Regions from separate parts of the Homo sapiens genome. Here region 1 is linked to region 2. Evidence: fine-mapped expression QTL. A gene starts in region 2. The other region holds a variant in brackets. All regions are shown on one strand. Distances are from middle to middle.

The links. PIP is the estimated chance that this variant, and not a neighbour inherited with it, causes the effect.
Region 1: its variant is fine-mapped to the expression of TESK1 in skeletal muscle (GTEx, PIP 0.94).

The regions. Positions count from the first base shown.
Region 1 is chr9:35,563,462-35,571,793 of GRCh38, forward strand. CIMIP2B (ciliary microtubule inner protein 2B) reads right to left here and starts at 417. Exons shown (of 6, transcript NM_001164310.3): 1 at 306-417. The coding sequence starts at 367. RefSeq lists an enhancer at 6,012-6,171. The variant G/A (reference allele first, on the strand shown) is at 4,657.
Region 2 is chr9:35,600,527-35,608,858 of GRCh38, forward strand. TESK1 (testis associated actin remodelling kinase 1) reads left to right here and starts at 4,736. Exons shown (of 10, transcript NM_006285.3): 1 at 4,736-5,312; 2 at 5,458-5,579; 3 at 5,711-5,759; 4 at 6,311-6,457; 5 at 6,801-6,883; 6 at 7,056-7,146; 7 at 7,402-7,485; 8 at 7,634-7,723; 9 at 7,869-7,983. The coding sequence starts at 5,094. It overlaps MIR4667 (microRNA 4667), which reads left to right and starts at 7,568; the gene lies at 7,568-7,633. RefSeq lists an enhancer at 3,972-4,081 and silencers at 4,562-4,811, 4,842-5,141, 5,162-5,331, 5,266-5,560, 5,342-5,601.

The sequences.
Region 1 (8,332 bases), 37 kb before region 2:
TGAAGCCCTGATCTTTCTGGACTCAGCAGTGTATATATTTGGAGCAGGCATTTCTAAGTTCTCTGCCTGGGCTTTCGATCCTTCCTCTGCTGTTACCCTGTTCCCATGGAGAGAACAACACAAAGCTTTGGGGCAGACCCGGTGTCTCACTAGTCCCTTGCTTCTCCTTTTCCATCCACCACCATAGAGACCTCAGCCTCCCAAACCAACCTGTCCGCTTGGCCCCATGCTCTAAGCAGCTTAATTCCTCCACCCTATACCCCTACTCCCAGCAGCAAGCGGGGAGCGCTAAGTGGGAGTCTTACCCTGGGATATAATGAGGGTTCTGAGGGTTGAGCCCTGGTATGAAGGTGCTGGCCACAGCCATGGGGAGCCGGGCATTTCCTTTTGTTTGCCTTTGAGCCAAGGCTCTGGTCTGTGTGTACCGTGTCCAGGGCTGTGGGGCTAGAGGAAGGAGGCGGGGCTAAGGGAGGAGAGAAGGGAGGGGGCACTCGTGTGAGGACAGCCAGGGCGAAGGCCGGCAGAACTGTAGAGCAGAGGCTAGCAGGTCTGTCTGTCCAGGACAAAGGTGGTCCTGCTCGTGGGGCAGGGCCCGAACCGAAGGAAGCCCTGAGGTGGGACGTGGGAGGTGGGACGTGGGAGGTGAGGGAGCAGAAACCATTCGGGCCACTGAGCTCTGTCTCAGCGACTTCCTTCCTGAGCGCCTGCCTGAGAGGTGGACACTGTGTTCCTCATGAGTCTTCATCAAAGGAGATGGGGGACCTGGAGAAAGGATCTTTGAGGGAAGCCAGGGCCCAGAGGGGAGGTGAAAGAGGACAGGTGATGGGGGAAAAAAAGGAACCTAGACACCTCTAGGGAGTAACATCGTTTATTTTCAATAATTTAACAAGAGTGGCTTACTGAATACCTGCTATAATCAGAGTCATCCATTCAACAAATGAGCCAGGCTCTGCCAGGCTCCGGCCACAGTGGCCGAGTGTGCACTCCATGGGAGCCAGAAAAGCTGTGGGGGTTGAGGGAAGGAAACAGGATAAAGTTGTTGTAGGTGTGGGCGGTAACACTAGGGAGCAAGTTAGAATTTGTTAAAAAAATAAAATAAAATAAAAAATTCGGATTCTAAGAGAAGAAAAAGCACAGACCAGGAAGATGAGATCTCAGAGGACGGGGAAACATGTTTAAAACCCAACTCTGGGCCGGGTGCAGCCACGCTCACATCAACGTACTGAGGAGGCTGAGGTGGGAGGATCACTTGGGTCCGGGAGTTTCAGTCCAAACTGGGCAACACAGCCAGACCCCACCTCAAAAAACAAAACAAAACAAAAAGTTCTGGGGCTGGGTCAGGGCCAGGCTGAGGGCTCAGGGCCCACGTTTCTGAGGCAGAGCTCTGCTCTTCTCCCCACCTCCAGTGACCATGCCTGCGCTGACCAAGGACGGCACTGACATCCCAGGGGAATTACATAAGAGCACTGGGCTCCAAGGCACACATTTCATGTTCCTCACTGTTCTGCCAAGGACAGCCTTAGAATGTGTCATTTAGAGTTGTGGGGACTTACCTCACAGCTGAGGAAATATGTTAGAGTGAGGATGGGAGCCGAGGGGCAAGCCCAGAATAGCAGCAGTGTGTCAAGCTTAACAACCAGACTTGGGATTCTGTGACAGACACTATCACAGCTTATACCTATTCCTGACCCCCATCTCCTTTCTTCCGAGGAGCCAGAAACTGCATCAGGGAGGCTTGGAGAGCCAGCCTGGAGGAATGAGCTGGATTAGTCTAAGCGTGGTCCCATGCTCCTTCCCCATGACCGCTTAGGCACGGGCTTCCAGCATTCTGGATAATATGAGGGGAAATCTGCTGGGGCAGGGGAGGGTCCTGGGAAAAGTTTCTTTGCTCTTAAAGAAAAGATTCACATCAAATTAGAGCAAGTGAGAGAGACAGAGATGCGCAAGACGAAACGATGTCCATTCCTGCCCCTAGACTTTTGGGGGATGTGAGGCTGGAATGCTGGCAGGCATGTGGAAGCCTTGTGGAAAGCTAACCTGAAGACAAGTCCTGGACACATCAAGGATGGATGGTAGAGGAGAAAGGCCAGGGTCCTGAGGGTAATGTAGAGCCATGGAATTAATCAGCCTTTTTATGTCAAATAGTAAATTTCATTATTAAGGCCACTTTAAGTTTTCTTTCACTTACAGCCAAAGGCATCATAACTTTAAAAAACAAAACAGCCAGGCACGGTGGCTCACACCCTTAATCCCAGCACTTTGGGAGGCCGAGGCAGGAGGATCACAAGGTCATGAGTTCGAGACCAGCCTGGCCAACATAGTGAAATCCTGTCTCTACTAAAAATACAAAAATTAGCCAAGCGTGGTGGTGGGCACCTGTAGTCCCAGCTACTCAGGAGGTTGAGGCAGGAGAATCACATGAACCCAGGAGGTGGAGCTTGCAGTGAGCTGAGATCGCACATTGCACTCCAGCTTGGGCAACAGAGTGAGACTCCGTCTCAAAAACAAAACAAAACAAAAAAACACCACTAGATCAAATCCTAGCTTCACCAGAGATATAGACTTTGTCCAAATTCATCTCATTGAGCCTCAGTTTTCTCATCTGTAAAATGGAAAAACTAATGTTACCATCTCATAGAGTAGGATATCAGCTAGCTGAGATGATACACAATGAGCAATGACCCCAGCGTCTAGCTTACGGTAAGTGCTAACTAAACAGCAATTCACGGCTAGCATTTGGCAGGAATGGGAGGAAGGAAAGGAGCTGGGAGCAGTCACAGATGTTAGAGGTTCAGGGGAAAGGTTCATGAAATTGAAAAAGGGAAAGGTTTGAATGGAAGTTGGGGTATAAATTAGGATGTAGGGACTAGAACACATTCTGCAGAAAAGACCATGGCAGTTAGAATCCGGGTATGCGTTAAAACACAAGTTAGGAAACAGATTAGGATTAGTCTTAGGTTTATGGCTTATGAAGAAACAGCTCTATCCAATTGGTAGAATGGCCTGTTACTATGATTGTTTCCATCTGAATAAAGAATATTTCTAGATCCCTGAAGGGTGTTCTAATCTGAGAAAGGAGTGACGGGGCCAGCTGAGGCACCACAGGAATGCTTGCTGCCTCTGTGCCTCCTTCCAGGGACAGACATCACAGAAACATGACCACAACTTGCTCTGATGGGAGCTGCCACACCCAGTGGCCAGTGTTGGATGTGGCAGTGGAGAGAAAATGTTTAACTGGAGACAGCGCCCCACTCAGTCCACACAGCCTGCTGGGTCCCCACAATGGCAGCCTATAGCCTTCTGTTCTGCCTTTGATTCTGACCAGGAACTGCTATAAAATTTCATACAGATCCCAAATCAATCATTTGATTGTATGTCAACCCTAGGCAAGCATAAATCCCCTCTGCAAGGATGAATAAAAGAAAATCACAGGACCTTTGAAAAAATTCCTGAAATCAACAGTCCACCAAAATTGAAACAAGAATTGAATAAACTCCAAAAGATTACATGCAACACAAAACCTTTTTTAGTTTGAAAAATACATGCAGATGCATAAAACTGCATAAAAAGGAAAGCAAGGGAATGATAAAAATGGGTTTCAAATGCTCACCTCAGATGGTGAGAAACAAAAGGGGTGGGAAAGGGGGAACCACATAGTTAGATGTATGTTATTGTCAAAGTTTCAGTTTTTGTTTGGGATGATGTTTTCAAAAATGCTTATAATGGGCCAGGTGCAGTGTCTCATGCCTGTAATCCCAACACCTGGGGAGGCCAAGGTGGGCAGATTACTTGAGGTCAGGAATTCGAGACCAGCCTGGCCAATATGGCAAAACCCCATCTCTACTAAACATACAAAAATTAGCCAGGTGTGGTGGCACACACCTGTAATCCCAGCTACTTGGGAGGCTGAGGCAGAAGAATCACTTGAACCAGGAGGCAGAGGTTGCAGTGAGCCGAGATCATGCCACTGCACTCCAGCCTGGGTGACAGAGCATGACTCTGTATCAAAAAAAAAAAAATGCTTATAATGCATACATTATAACAAAGTATGAACTAATGATGAGAATGTGCCAAACCAAAGATTATGACAATTGAAATCTATGCTTTTGAGGTCCAAAGAGGTGTGGTGGAGGGAATCCAAGTAGAAATGACAAGGAATCATGGTATTTGGAGGGATCGAAGGAAAGGAAATGGCCTGGTCTCTATTCTACCTTTTTCTACCTTTTTGGTTTTTTTCTTTTTTTGAGATAGGGTCTCACTCTGTCACCTAAGCTGGAGTGCAGTGGCATAATCTCAGCTCACTACAACCTTCGCTTCCTGGGCTCAAGTGATCCTCCCACCTCAGCCTCCAGAGTAGCTGGGACTACAGGTGCATGCCACCACACCCGGCTAATTTTTGTATTTTTTTTTTTTTATAGAGATAGGGTTTCACCATGTCCAAGCTGGTCTTGAACTCCTGGGTTAAAGCGATCCACCCTCCTCAGCCTCCCAAAGTGCTGGAATTACAGGCGTGAGCCACCGCACCTGGCCTGGATTTTTTATGTATATAACACTCCTCAAATCCACAAGGATCAATATTCATTTATTCAGCCTACTTATTAAATATTTCTACTAGGCAGTTGCCTTATAGATCAATACAGACAATGCCTGACCTCA[G/A]TGATCGAACCACTTTAAAGAAGAGACAGAGGTACAGAGAAAGGCAGAATAAAATAAATACCACAATGAAGATCTAAACAAAAACAACTGATCTTATAATAGGCCATGAAGAAAAATCTCAAAAATTCCAAGAAGCACAATAAACCACATTTCCTCACACAAACACAATTTTAAAATTTTAAAATAGGCTAAACAAACAACCAACCTAACACTTAGACATTTAAAAATACTCCCTTGAGCTGGGCGTGGTGGTGCATTCCTGTAATCCCAGCTGCTTGGGAAGCTGAGGCGGGAGGATGGCTTGAGCCCAGAAATTTGAAGCTGTAGGGCGGCGCTATGATCACATCTGTGAATAGCCACTGCACTCCAGCCCAGGCAACACAGTGAGACCCTGTCTCTTAAAGAAATAAAAATTAAAATTAAAAAAAAAACAAAAACACCTTAACCCTTGGGGCAAAGAAAAAATTCCAGTTATACACAATTATTTATAAATAAATGAGAATTCAATCAAAGATGAATTCAGAGGCAACTTTTAGCCTCAAACACATACTGGCCTCATGATTAAGAATATAGACTTGATCCTGCTGGGTGTGGTGGCTCACACCTGTAATCCCAGCACTTTGGGAAGCCGAGGCAGGTGGATCACAAGGTCAGATCAAGACCGTCCTGGCTAACACGGTGAAACTCCGTCTCTACTAAAAATATAAAAAATTAGCTGGGCGTGGTGGCAGGCGCCTGTAGTCCCAGTTACTGGGGAGGCTGAGGCAGGAGAATGGCGTGAACCAGGGAGGTGGAGCTTGTAGTGAGCTGAGATCGCACCACTGCACTCCAGCCTGGGCGACAGAGAGAGATTCTGTCTCAAAAAATTAAAAAAAAAAAAAAAAAAAATATATATATATATATAGGCTTGATCCTGGCTCCATCACTTATGAGCTGTACAACCTTGGGCAAGTTAGCAAACCTCTCTGTATCTCTTTTTCCCTCCTCTATAAAATGAAAATGCTAATAGTGTAAGGATTAACTTAAACGGTACAATAAAGCACAATAATAAATAAACTATCAATATCATTACTAACAAATGTTCTAGTGGGAGCTGCTCTAAGAAACAATTGCCTACCTTGGCTGGTCCAAGTAAAAGAAGAAAGCCAAGAGTGGAAGGAAGAGAGGATATCTTAAGAATGGATAGATTTCCTGAGTATCCAAGGAAGGAACTGTATACTGTACAGACTGCCATATAGCTAGGCCTCGTGAAACGGGAATTGAGAACGTGAAAGTGAACAGGAGCTGAGGCAGCTATTTTCACTCTCACCCTGGGGCCAGGTGCTTCTCTCTGCACATCTGCTCAACTCCGTCTGTCTCTATCTGTCTCTCTCGCTCCCTTTTCCAAATGGACTTGTCACTATTAGTTTCTACTCCCTGATAACTCTGGTATGCATGTGTTCATCAGGAAATTTCTACACCCCACATCCCCCATCATCTCTACAACAGTGATTGCTTAAGCAGAGTGTGCTGCAGAATTACCCAGAGTTTCGATATCAAACCTATAGAAAAGTTGCAAGACAAATGTCACTTTTACCTGACTTACCAGTTGTTCACATTTTGCAACTCAGAAGTATAGTCTCCCATGCGTCCCAGAAGGAAAGAGAAACAGACACAGGTGAGCATCACCATCCTGACCTCACTCATCTCTCTCGGCCTGGCCTCACTGCAGATGCAGAGGCCACCACCTCAACCAGGCAGCTGGGGAGGGAGGAGGGCATGTGTGCAGACCATGATGGCTTCAGCAGGACAGGCTGCAGACAGACTAGCCAGGCAAATGAGTCTAAAAGCAACTAGCCAGCTAACTAAATTAACTAGCTAATAACTAAGCAGTCAATTCAAAAGGCTAGAAAAAGAAGAACGTCATAAAGCTAACAAATATAGGAGAATGAAACTGATAGAAACCAATAAATCAGAAAACAGAAAAACAATTGAACTGTTATAAGAGTTGTTTAAAACAACAACAAAACAAGCAAACTGCTGGCAAAGTTAGCCAAGAGAAAGACTATACAACACCCCTAACAGATTGAGGAAGTGGCTAAAAACAGGCACATAGGAATTTGTGGGGGGTTTTTTTGTTTTGTTTTTGTTTTTGAGATGGAGTCTCGCTCTGTCGCCAGGCTGGAGTGCAGTGGCGCAATCTCGGCTCACTGCAACCTCCGCCTCCGGGGTTCAAGCAATTCTCCTGCCTCAGCCTCCCAAGTAGCTAGAATTACAGGTATGCGCCACCACGCCCAGCTAATTTTTGTATTTTTAGTAGAGACAGGGTTTCACTATGTTGGCCAGGATGGTCTTGATCTCTTGACTTCGTGATCCACCTGCTTCGGCCTCCCAAAGTGCTGGGATTACAGGCATGAGCCACCGCGCCCAGCCAGGAATTTGTGTTTTAACTACAAAAGAATACTAGTGAAACTCTATATAAATAAACTAGAAAATGTCAATAAGAATGAATATTGTCTTGGAAAATATAAATCAAAATCAACTCAAAATGATGGAACATCTGAATAAAATAACAATAGAAAGAATTGGGCCAGGTGCAGTGACTCACATCTGTAATCCCAGCATTTTCGGAGGCCAAGGTTCAGGATTGCTTGAGCCCAGGAGTTCTAGACCAGCCTGGGCAACATAGTAAGACTTCATCTCTACAAAAAATTTTTAAAAAATCAGCCAGGCATGGTGGCGTGTAGTCCTAGCTACTCAGGATGCTGAGGTGAGAAAATCACCTCGGCCCAGGAAGCTGAGGCTGCAGTGAGCCATGATTGCATCACTGCACTCCAGCCTGGGTGACGGAAACCCTGTCTCAAAAAGAAAAAGAAAGAATGGAAAAAGTGGTCAAGTAGATGCCCCTACCAAAAGACCCACACGCCACTTGATTTACAAAATTAGCAAAAACTTAATTCAAGACAACAAATTCAATACCTAACAAACCTCACACAAGTTCTACAGATAAAAAATGCCACCAAATAAAACATCAAACTAGCAACAGCAAAAAAGCAGGATGCTTACTATCACTGTCATCTTTCCTCCAATTCATAGCAGATGCCAATAAAGGATCCCAGTCCCCTTTCTGAGATCTTCCAAGACTCTGCAAGACAGCATGTTTTGAGTGATTTCTGCCAAAGCTTCAGATGAGGGGAGTGGTGGCAAATGTTCTGCTCTTTATCACCCCTGAATTGACTGACAGCTCAGTAAGGGCAGAAACCATGTCTGTCTATCTTGTTCATGATTATATCCTCAGCATCAAGCACAAGTGTCTGGCACATAGTATGAACTACACAAGTCTAGTAATATTGTAAAAGAATAATATACATTAAGACTAGTAGAGCCAAGTGTGGTAGCTCATGCCCGTAATCCCAGCATTTTGGGAGGCCAAGGCAGGAGGATCACTTGAGCCCAGGAATTTGAGATCAGCCTGGGCAACACAGTGAGACCTTGTCTCTACTAAAAATAAAAAATTAGCCAGATGTGGTGGTACATTCCTGCAGTCCCAGCTACTCAGGAGGCTGAGGTGGGAGGATTGCTTGAGCCCAGGAGGTCAAAGCTGCAGTGAGCCATGATTGTGCTACTGCATTCCAGTCTGGGAAACAGAGAGAGACCCTCAAAAAAAAAAAAAAAAAAAGAGACTAGTAGGATTTAT
Region 2 (8,332 bases):
CCCAGGCTGGTAGCGTGAGCCAAGCACAGGCTGCCAGGCTGGGTAGGCGAAACAAGCCCAGAGGGCCTGAGCAAAACTGGGGCAAAAGCACCACCAGCCACAGAGGTTTCTGGCCAGAAAAAGGACGCCCCAAAGATCCCGTAACAATAGGACAAGCACCAAAAATGATAACTGGGCGCAGTGGCTCACGCCTGTAATCCCAGCACTTTGGGAGGCCAAGGCAGGAGGATCACCTGAGGTCAGGAGTTTGAGACCAGCCTGGCCAACATGGTGAAACTCTGTCTCTACTAAAAATACAAAAATCAGCCGGGCGTGGTGACAGGTGTCTGTAATCCCAGCTACTCAGGAGGCTGAGACAGGGGAATCGCTTGAACCTGGGAAGCGGAGTTTGCAGTGAGCCGAGATCACACCACTGCACTCTAGCCTGGGTGACAGAGCAAGACTCCATCTCAATCAATCAATCAATCAATAACTGGGCTGGGTGCAGTGGCTCATGTCTGTAATCCCAGCACTTTGGGAGGCCAAGGCAGGAGGATCACTTGAGGCCAGGAGTTTGAGACCAGCCTGGGCAAAACATGGTGAGACCCTGTCTCTACAAAAAAATTAAAAATTAGCCAGGTGTGATGGCACGTGCTTGTAGTCCCAGTTACTTGGGAGGCTGAGATGAGAGAATCACTTGAGCCCGGGAGGTCAAGGTTGCAGTGAGCTTTGTGCCACTGCACTCCAGCCTGAAAAAGAGTGAGACCCGTCTCAAAAAGAAAAAAAAGATAACTAGCAATAATTGAGTATATCACATATGTGTTAAATTATGAGTTCATAATGGTACTTTAAAAAAAACCTCATCGGTCAACTTTGGAAGATGCTGGGGAACCAACTCATTACTTTGAAAGCTGGTAAAATAAGTGAGAAACAATCAAGTATTTATTCTGCCTTTCCTAGGAAATGTATCTCTGTGTAACAAATAGTTAATGTGGAAAAGTTTCTCCTTATAGAATTATTCTACCTAATACTTCTATAGGAATTCATTCAAAGAAGGAATGATAATATTATTTTCTAACTTTTTATTTATTTTGAGACAGGGTCTTGCTATGATGCCCAGGCTGGACTCGAACTCCTGGGCTCAAGCAACCCTCTCGGCTCAACTTCCCATGTAGTTGGGACTATAGTCGCGTGCCACCATGCCCAGCTTTAACTCCTCTATTAATGAACCTAGACCAGTGGTTCTTATTCAGGGTCAATTTTGTCCCCCAGAGGACAAATGGCAATGTCTAGACACATTTTTTTATTGTTACAGTCAGGAGGAGGTGCTACTGGCATCCATTAGGTAGAGGCCAGAGATGCTGCTAAGCATCCTACAATACACAGGACAGCCCCTACAATAAAGAATTTTCCAGCCCAAAATGTCAATAGTGCCACGGTTGAGAAACAAATATCAGTTATTAAAATCACAAAAAGACCACCACTGTATACCTCCTGTATACCTCCTGATAGAAGTGCTAAAACCATCTACAAATTAGTTTTGCCAAAAGAAATCTAAATTTGATTAAGTTACCAATTTATATCAAATACAGAGGATGGAGGAACATGCTAAATTACCACAGAAATCAAGACTCTAAGAAACTCTACAGGACAAATGAACCAGTTTTAAAAAATAGTAAGAAAAAAGATGGAGAATAAGCATAGATCTGCAAAGACTTAAGAAACATATGGCTGGGTGTGGTGGCTCACACCTATAATCCCAGCACTTTGGGAGGCCAAGGCGAATGGAATGCTTGAGCCCAGGAGTTGAGACCAGCCTGGGCAACGTGGCAAACCCCATCTCTACAAAAATACAAAAATTAGACAGGTGTGGTGGTACCCACACCTCAGTAGTCCCAGCCACTCAGAAGGCTGAGGCAGGATTGCTTGAGCCTCGGGGGTGGAGGTTGCTGTGAGCCGAGATCAACCCACTGCACTCCATCCTGGGTGATAGAGCCAGACCCTGTCTCACAAAAAGAGAGACAGACAGACAGACATATCACCTGCAAAGTACAGACCTAATTTAGATTTTGATTCAAATAAACAATTTTTAAAAATCAAACGTAAGACAGTGAGGGAAATGTAAACAACTGGATGCTTGATGACATGAAGGAACTATTGTTTTTTTTTGGTGTGACAATACTGTGATTTGGTTTTAAAGAAGAATCCTTATCATTTAGAGATAACGTACTGAAACATTTACAGGATGAAATGATATGTCAGAAATATACACAAATATGGAGTGGGGAAGAGGGCACGGGTATAGATGAAACAAGATTGGCCATGAATTGCTCATTGGAGAATCACTGACATAGAAGGGTAAATGAAAGTAGGTACTTTCACCTGGGCCAGGTCAAATATGGCAACAGTACAACTGAGGCAAAGGAAAGCCAATTTTGCACTATGGGTTTCCAACAAAATGGTCTTACTAATCCAAGGTAAATAAACATTCATTTTTCTATTCTGTGTGTGTGTGTTAAGACATTTTCCACCATACAAACAACAACAAAAGGTTTTTTTGAGACAGAGTCCCGCTCTTGTCGCCTAGACAGGAGTGTAATGGCGCGATCTTGGCTCACTGCAACCTCCGCCTCCCGGGTTCAAGCGATTCACCTGCCTCAGATTCCAGAGTAGCTGGAATTACAGGCGCTCGCCACATCAGGCTAATTTTTTTGTATTTTTAGTAGAGACGGGGTTTCACTACGTTGGCCAGGCTGGTCTCATCCTTTCCTGATTGAACCACAGTCACAGCCTCCTTCCTAATCAGTCTCCCGGCCTCCATACAACCACCGCAATCATCTTACAAAAAATAGGCACCTGGCTCTTTGGCTTGGCATTACCATCACCAACTACTACAGTAATTCTCAAACGTGATAAAGGGCCAGAACCCAGTGTCGGTTAAAAGATCTATGATATTAAACAAAATGAGGCATAAATTCCTAGTGTTTACAGATGTCATACAATAAAAAGCAAATTCACAAATTAGTTGTAGATGTTAACATTAATGTGATGAATGAGCGTGTGCTGAAGACCAAACGCCTCCAGAAAAAAGAACAGGATGCACGTGCCCCGTGCAATTCTGTGAGGTTGGCCTGCCTCCACCGGCTGTGGAAGGATTGCGAATGTCTCCCATTCCTCTCGCTCCAAACTTGTGCAATACCTTCCCTTGTACAGCGCACCAAGACAGCATCTGGCCTTCTCTTGACTCTAAGGCATCATGTATCATTTATGACCGTCTTTATTCTTTTCTCAGTAGCCCTCGACAAGCGAGTAGTATTTCTTGGCTCCAAGTCTCATAAACGTGTAACCAGACTCCATTGGAAGACGGTAACCCCACGCGATACGGACTGTGCTTGTATTAATTCTCTTTTAAGCTTACTACAGAAATATCAATACAGTACTTGAGAATTCCTGCAGGACTCAGCCTCGCTTCCTCGAGGAGCTCTCAGCCTGCCTCCGCACTCGAGACGGCAGCTTTCTCTCCCTCCGCCCACCGTTCCGCCGCTAGGTGGCAGGCGGCTCAACGACGCCCTTTTAAACCGTTTGCCCCGGAGTGGACCGCCGGGATCGCGTGTCACCACCCAACCCTAGCGATGATTGGCTATTTCGCCGAGGCCGGAGGAGGAACCAGCGGCAGAACCGGAAGCGTCTGGTACGGCGAGTGCACGGAGTCCTGAGACTGCGTGCGCACCCAGGCACCGCGCCGACTTAAAGAGGCCAGTTGCAGCCCCTCCTCCGGCCTTAGGGGGCAGACCGTGTTCCTACGTGGAGGGCGGAACCCTCACACTGAGGAGGGCTGGGTCACACTGAGGGGAGGAGTCACCTTGAGAGGAGGGGTCACAATGACTAGTGGATTTCCTCGGAGGTGGGGTCTCACTGCGTGGGAGGAACACAGAGCAAGGGGGTGCAGCACTGAGGGGTTCTGACACACTGACGGTGGCAGTGCCACACTGGGGAAAAGTGCCCCCGAAAGGGAGGTGTCTCACTGAGGAAGGGAGGGGTCTCCGAGGGACAGCGTTCTTTGAGGGGGGTGGGATCTTGCGGAAGGACGGGCTTCCCTGCAGGTGGAGGCTTCTCTCTTAGAGTCTTTTGGGCAAAGTAGTAAGAGGGAGGTCCCGGCTGGGTGGTCACAGGGCGGAGGACCTGGACTCTCTTCTTTATTGGGAGGCGGCAGGATGAAGTGAGGAGGAGTCGGGGCTAAGCTGGGTATGGGCCGGCCAAAGGCTTCCTATAGCCCCGGGGTATCACAACCTCCCGTGAAGGTAGAAGGTGTTAGGGAGGCCAGAGGTTCAAGGTGTCGGAGTCGAAGAGACCTGGGAAATGGGCAGGCTGGGCCGGGGCGCAGGCCAGGAAGGTGGACAGGTTGCTAGGCTACCTCTGATTGCGGCTGGGCCTGAGGGGCCTACCTTTCTGCCCCGTTGGTCCCTGGAGCCCAGGAATCCGGCAGGTTTCTGAGCCCGACCCTCAACGGACAGTAACCCAGGGAGGAGAGGGGACTCCCTGGGCAGCTAAGCTTCGCATGCGCACCATCAGCCCTTAATTCCCTCCCGTTATTCAAGCTCAGGCCGGAGCTTATTTGACCCGGGCGGCCCAGGGCATCGCGGCCGGAAAGCGGGGAGGCGGGGGTGCGCACCTGAGGGGGCGTGGCCGCTGCCGGGAGGCCGGGCTGGAAGGAGTTAAGCGGAGGCCCGGCCCAGCCCCGCCCCCGGCAGGCCGCGGAGCCTGATCCCCGGCGGCTAAGCGGAGCAGCCGCCGCCCGCCCGCCCGCCCGCCTCCGCCCGCGGCAAGCCAGCCCGCCGGCGCCCCGGAGCGCTGCCGCCACCGTCACCGCCACCGCCCGGTCCAGGCCCAAGCCCAGGCCCTGCGCGGAGCGGAGCGGCGCGGCGTCCACCCGGGCCCAGCCAGCCGGCGCGGCGGGGGCGGGTCCAGGATCTTCGGCGGATCTTCCATTCTCAGGGCGGGAGCCGGAGTCCGGGCGCCCGGGATCGGGCTGGGCCCGCGCCCATGGCAAGCGCGGCCTGCCCGGGCCCTGGGGACCCTGCCATGTGAGGCAGGCCCGGGCTGGGGGCCCGGCCATGGCCGGGGAACGGCCCCCACTGCGGGGCCCTGGGCCCGGGCCTGGAGAGGTGCCGGGGGAGGGGCCCCCGGGGCCGGGGGGCACGGGCGGAGGCCCGGGCCGGGGCCGCCCCTCCTCCTACCGGGCTCTCCGCAGCGCCGTGTCTAGCCTGGCGCGTGTGGACGATTTTCACTGCGCGGAGAAGATCGGGGCCGGCTTCTTCTCTGAGGTCTACAAGGTAGGACCGGCCGAGAGGGCAGAGGGGCGGGACCGAGCCTTCAACCAGAGGCTGAAACTAGGGGGCCGGGAGTGCGGGGAAGAGGGTCCAGACTCCGGCGACCCGCCCGACCTGCCCGGCCCTCGCCGGCTGCTCCTGCCCCCAGGTTCGGCACCGACAGTCAGGGCAAGTCATGGTGCTGAAGATGAACAAGCTCCCCAGTAACCGGGGCAACACACTACGGGAAGTGCAGCTGATGAACCGGCTCAGGCACCCCAACATCCTAAGGTGAGCGGCCCCAGTCTCTGGGCAGCTTGCTGGGCGGGAGAGAAAGGGAAAGATCCCGCGGGAAAAGTGGAACTGAGGAGGAGCTGAGGCCTTTAATAGCCTATCCTTCTATCTTCCCCATCCTCTTGCAGGTTCATGGGAGTCTGTGTGCACCAGGGACAGCTGCACGCTCTTACAGAGGTGAGGATAGGCCAGGAAGGAGGGATCCCCACCCCCCTTCACCCCCAAGGATAAAGGGAGTCAACAGGCCTGGTGGATCTACGGAGGACTAGTGAGAGGCAACAGGATCTCCTCTCAGGGGAGGCTTTCCTGAACTTTCCTTTAGGCAAACCACATATAAAAGGCCTCAACTGGTCTTATTCTCTGTATCCCCTAGAACAGTGCTGTCCAATAGAATTTTCTTCAGTGACGGAAATGTTCTCTATCTGTGCTGTCCAATACAGTAGCCACTAGCCACATGTGGTTAAATTTAAATTATTTTCATTGTTTAGATTATTTTTTGTGGGTCAACTTGATTAAAAAATTTTTTAAATTATTTAAATTGTTGCACATGGCTAATGGCTATTGAGTTGAACGGGGCAATCCTAGAACATGGATGGGGGGGGTCCTACAGCACAGTCTTACCCCTATGACCTCTGTGATCCTCGGGAGTGTCCCCTAGCGTGTAAGTGGGGGACCTAGAATACAGACTGAAGTCTGACATCTATTCCCATTCTCCTCCTATGCACCAGTATATGAATGGGGGGACATTGGAACAGCTGCTCAGCTCCCCTGAACCCCTGTCCTGGCCGGTCAGGCTCCACCTGGCCCTGGACATTGCCCGAGGCCTGCGGTACCTGCACTCCAAAGGTGTATTTCACCGCGACCTCACATCCAAGGTAGGCTAGCAGGGTGGGTGGAGACATGAAAGAGGGTTTGAGGCTATTAGGTTGTAACTGGCCTGTGGATGTTGGAATATGGATAACAGATATATTAGGATGTTGGAGTGGCAAGGCATTGGAGAATATTGGGGGACCAGGGTGAGGGGAGTGCTCGGAGGGACTGAGTAGCACCCTGTGTTTGGAGTGTTGGATGATGTTGCAATATTGAAGTGCCTTGAAAAACTGGGAGAGCAGAGAGGGTTGGAGTTATGCTGGAGTGACAGGGCTTTGGGTTATACATTGGGAGGCCAGACAGCAGAAGGTGATGAGTGCGTGGGGATACTATGTGTGTGTGTGTCAGAACTGTCTAGTCCGACGGGAAGATCGAGGCTTCACCGCTGTCGTGGGTGACTTCGGGCTGGCCGAAAAGATTCCTGTGTATAGGTGAGATGAATGTCCCTGTTCCCCCCAAATCTCCCAGAGTGCCCCTATCTGATGTCCCCAGAGCCCCAGGGATGTTTCCCTTGGGGAACGGAGGGAGTTCACCTCATCCCCTTTTGCCTGGGGGGGATGCCTGAATAGGATGCTTCTGACCACTCTGCCCCTGCCCCTGCAGGGAGGGGGCAAGGAAGGAGCCATTGGCCGTGGTGGGCTCCCCATACTGGATGGCTCCAGAGGTGTTACGGGGTGAGCTGTATGATGAGAAGGTGAGACATCAACCCTTCAGATCCCCAAGGCCTTCCGAGACCCTTGAGGTATTCTCATAAAGCCCCATCCATCCCCAAAACAACCCTACCAGATCTTCAGGAGTCCCCAAGATCCCTTTGCCCCTCACAGGCACCCTTCTAACACATGAAAACTGTCAAGATCCCCCACCCTCAACCAAATTCTGCTATATTCTGTCAAAATTCTGAAATGAAAACTGTTAATTCTTCCCCGACACTATTATCTCTGACCCCCAGGCTGATGTCTTTGCCTTCGGGATTGTCCTCTGTGAGCTCATCGCCCGAGTACCTGCAGACCCTGACTACCTACCACGCACTGAGGTGAATGTTTCTAGGTTTGCAAAGAAAGAATTCCAGACTAGCTGGCTCATAACCAAGGAGGATTCCCTAGAGGTTGAGGTTCTGACTGGGGAGCAGAAGGAGAACCCAAGAAAAGCTGACTTGGAGGTCCCTCCTTCTGTCCCCACAGGACTTTGGCCTGGATGTGCCTGCTTTCCGAACTCTGGTGGGGGATGACTGCCCACTGCCTTTCTTGCTCCTGGCCATCCACTGCTGCAACGTAAGAGCCTCACACTCCTTCCTGCCCCACCCTGCCCCCATCCGTAAGCTGCCATGGCTGCCCTGTGGGACCCAGGTGATGGGAGGAAACTCAGAGACCCTCTTTCGGAGCACTGAGTGAAGCCGTTCCTGTCTCTACCCATCAGCTGGAACCCAGCACCCGTGCCCCCTTCACCGAAATTACCCAGCACCTGGAATGGATCCTGGAGCAGCTGCCTGAGCCAGCCCCACTCACCAGGACCGCCCTGACACACAATCAGGGTAAGGGAGCCTGACCTTGATCCAGCTTGAGTCCTTTGGCCTTTGTCCTCCCTAGAATTCAGAGGTGACATGGGGGAGGCTAAGTATATTTATTAGTTGAAAAGGCTGGGGGTCGGGCTGGGGTAGGGTGGGAGGACATCTCCAAGAAGACAGTTTCCTAATGCTAAAGCTTGAGGGAGAGGAGGGGAAAGAAGTAAAAGGGGCCTGGAGATGACATCACCCCTTTCCAAAGCACCAGGTGGGACTCCCTTTTTCAAGCTCTAGTCCCACCAGCCTCCTGGAGAATAGTGAGGCCCTCAAGGAGCTGTGATCAAATGCTGAGGACAGTGATTCCAGACTTCTCTATCTA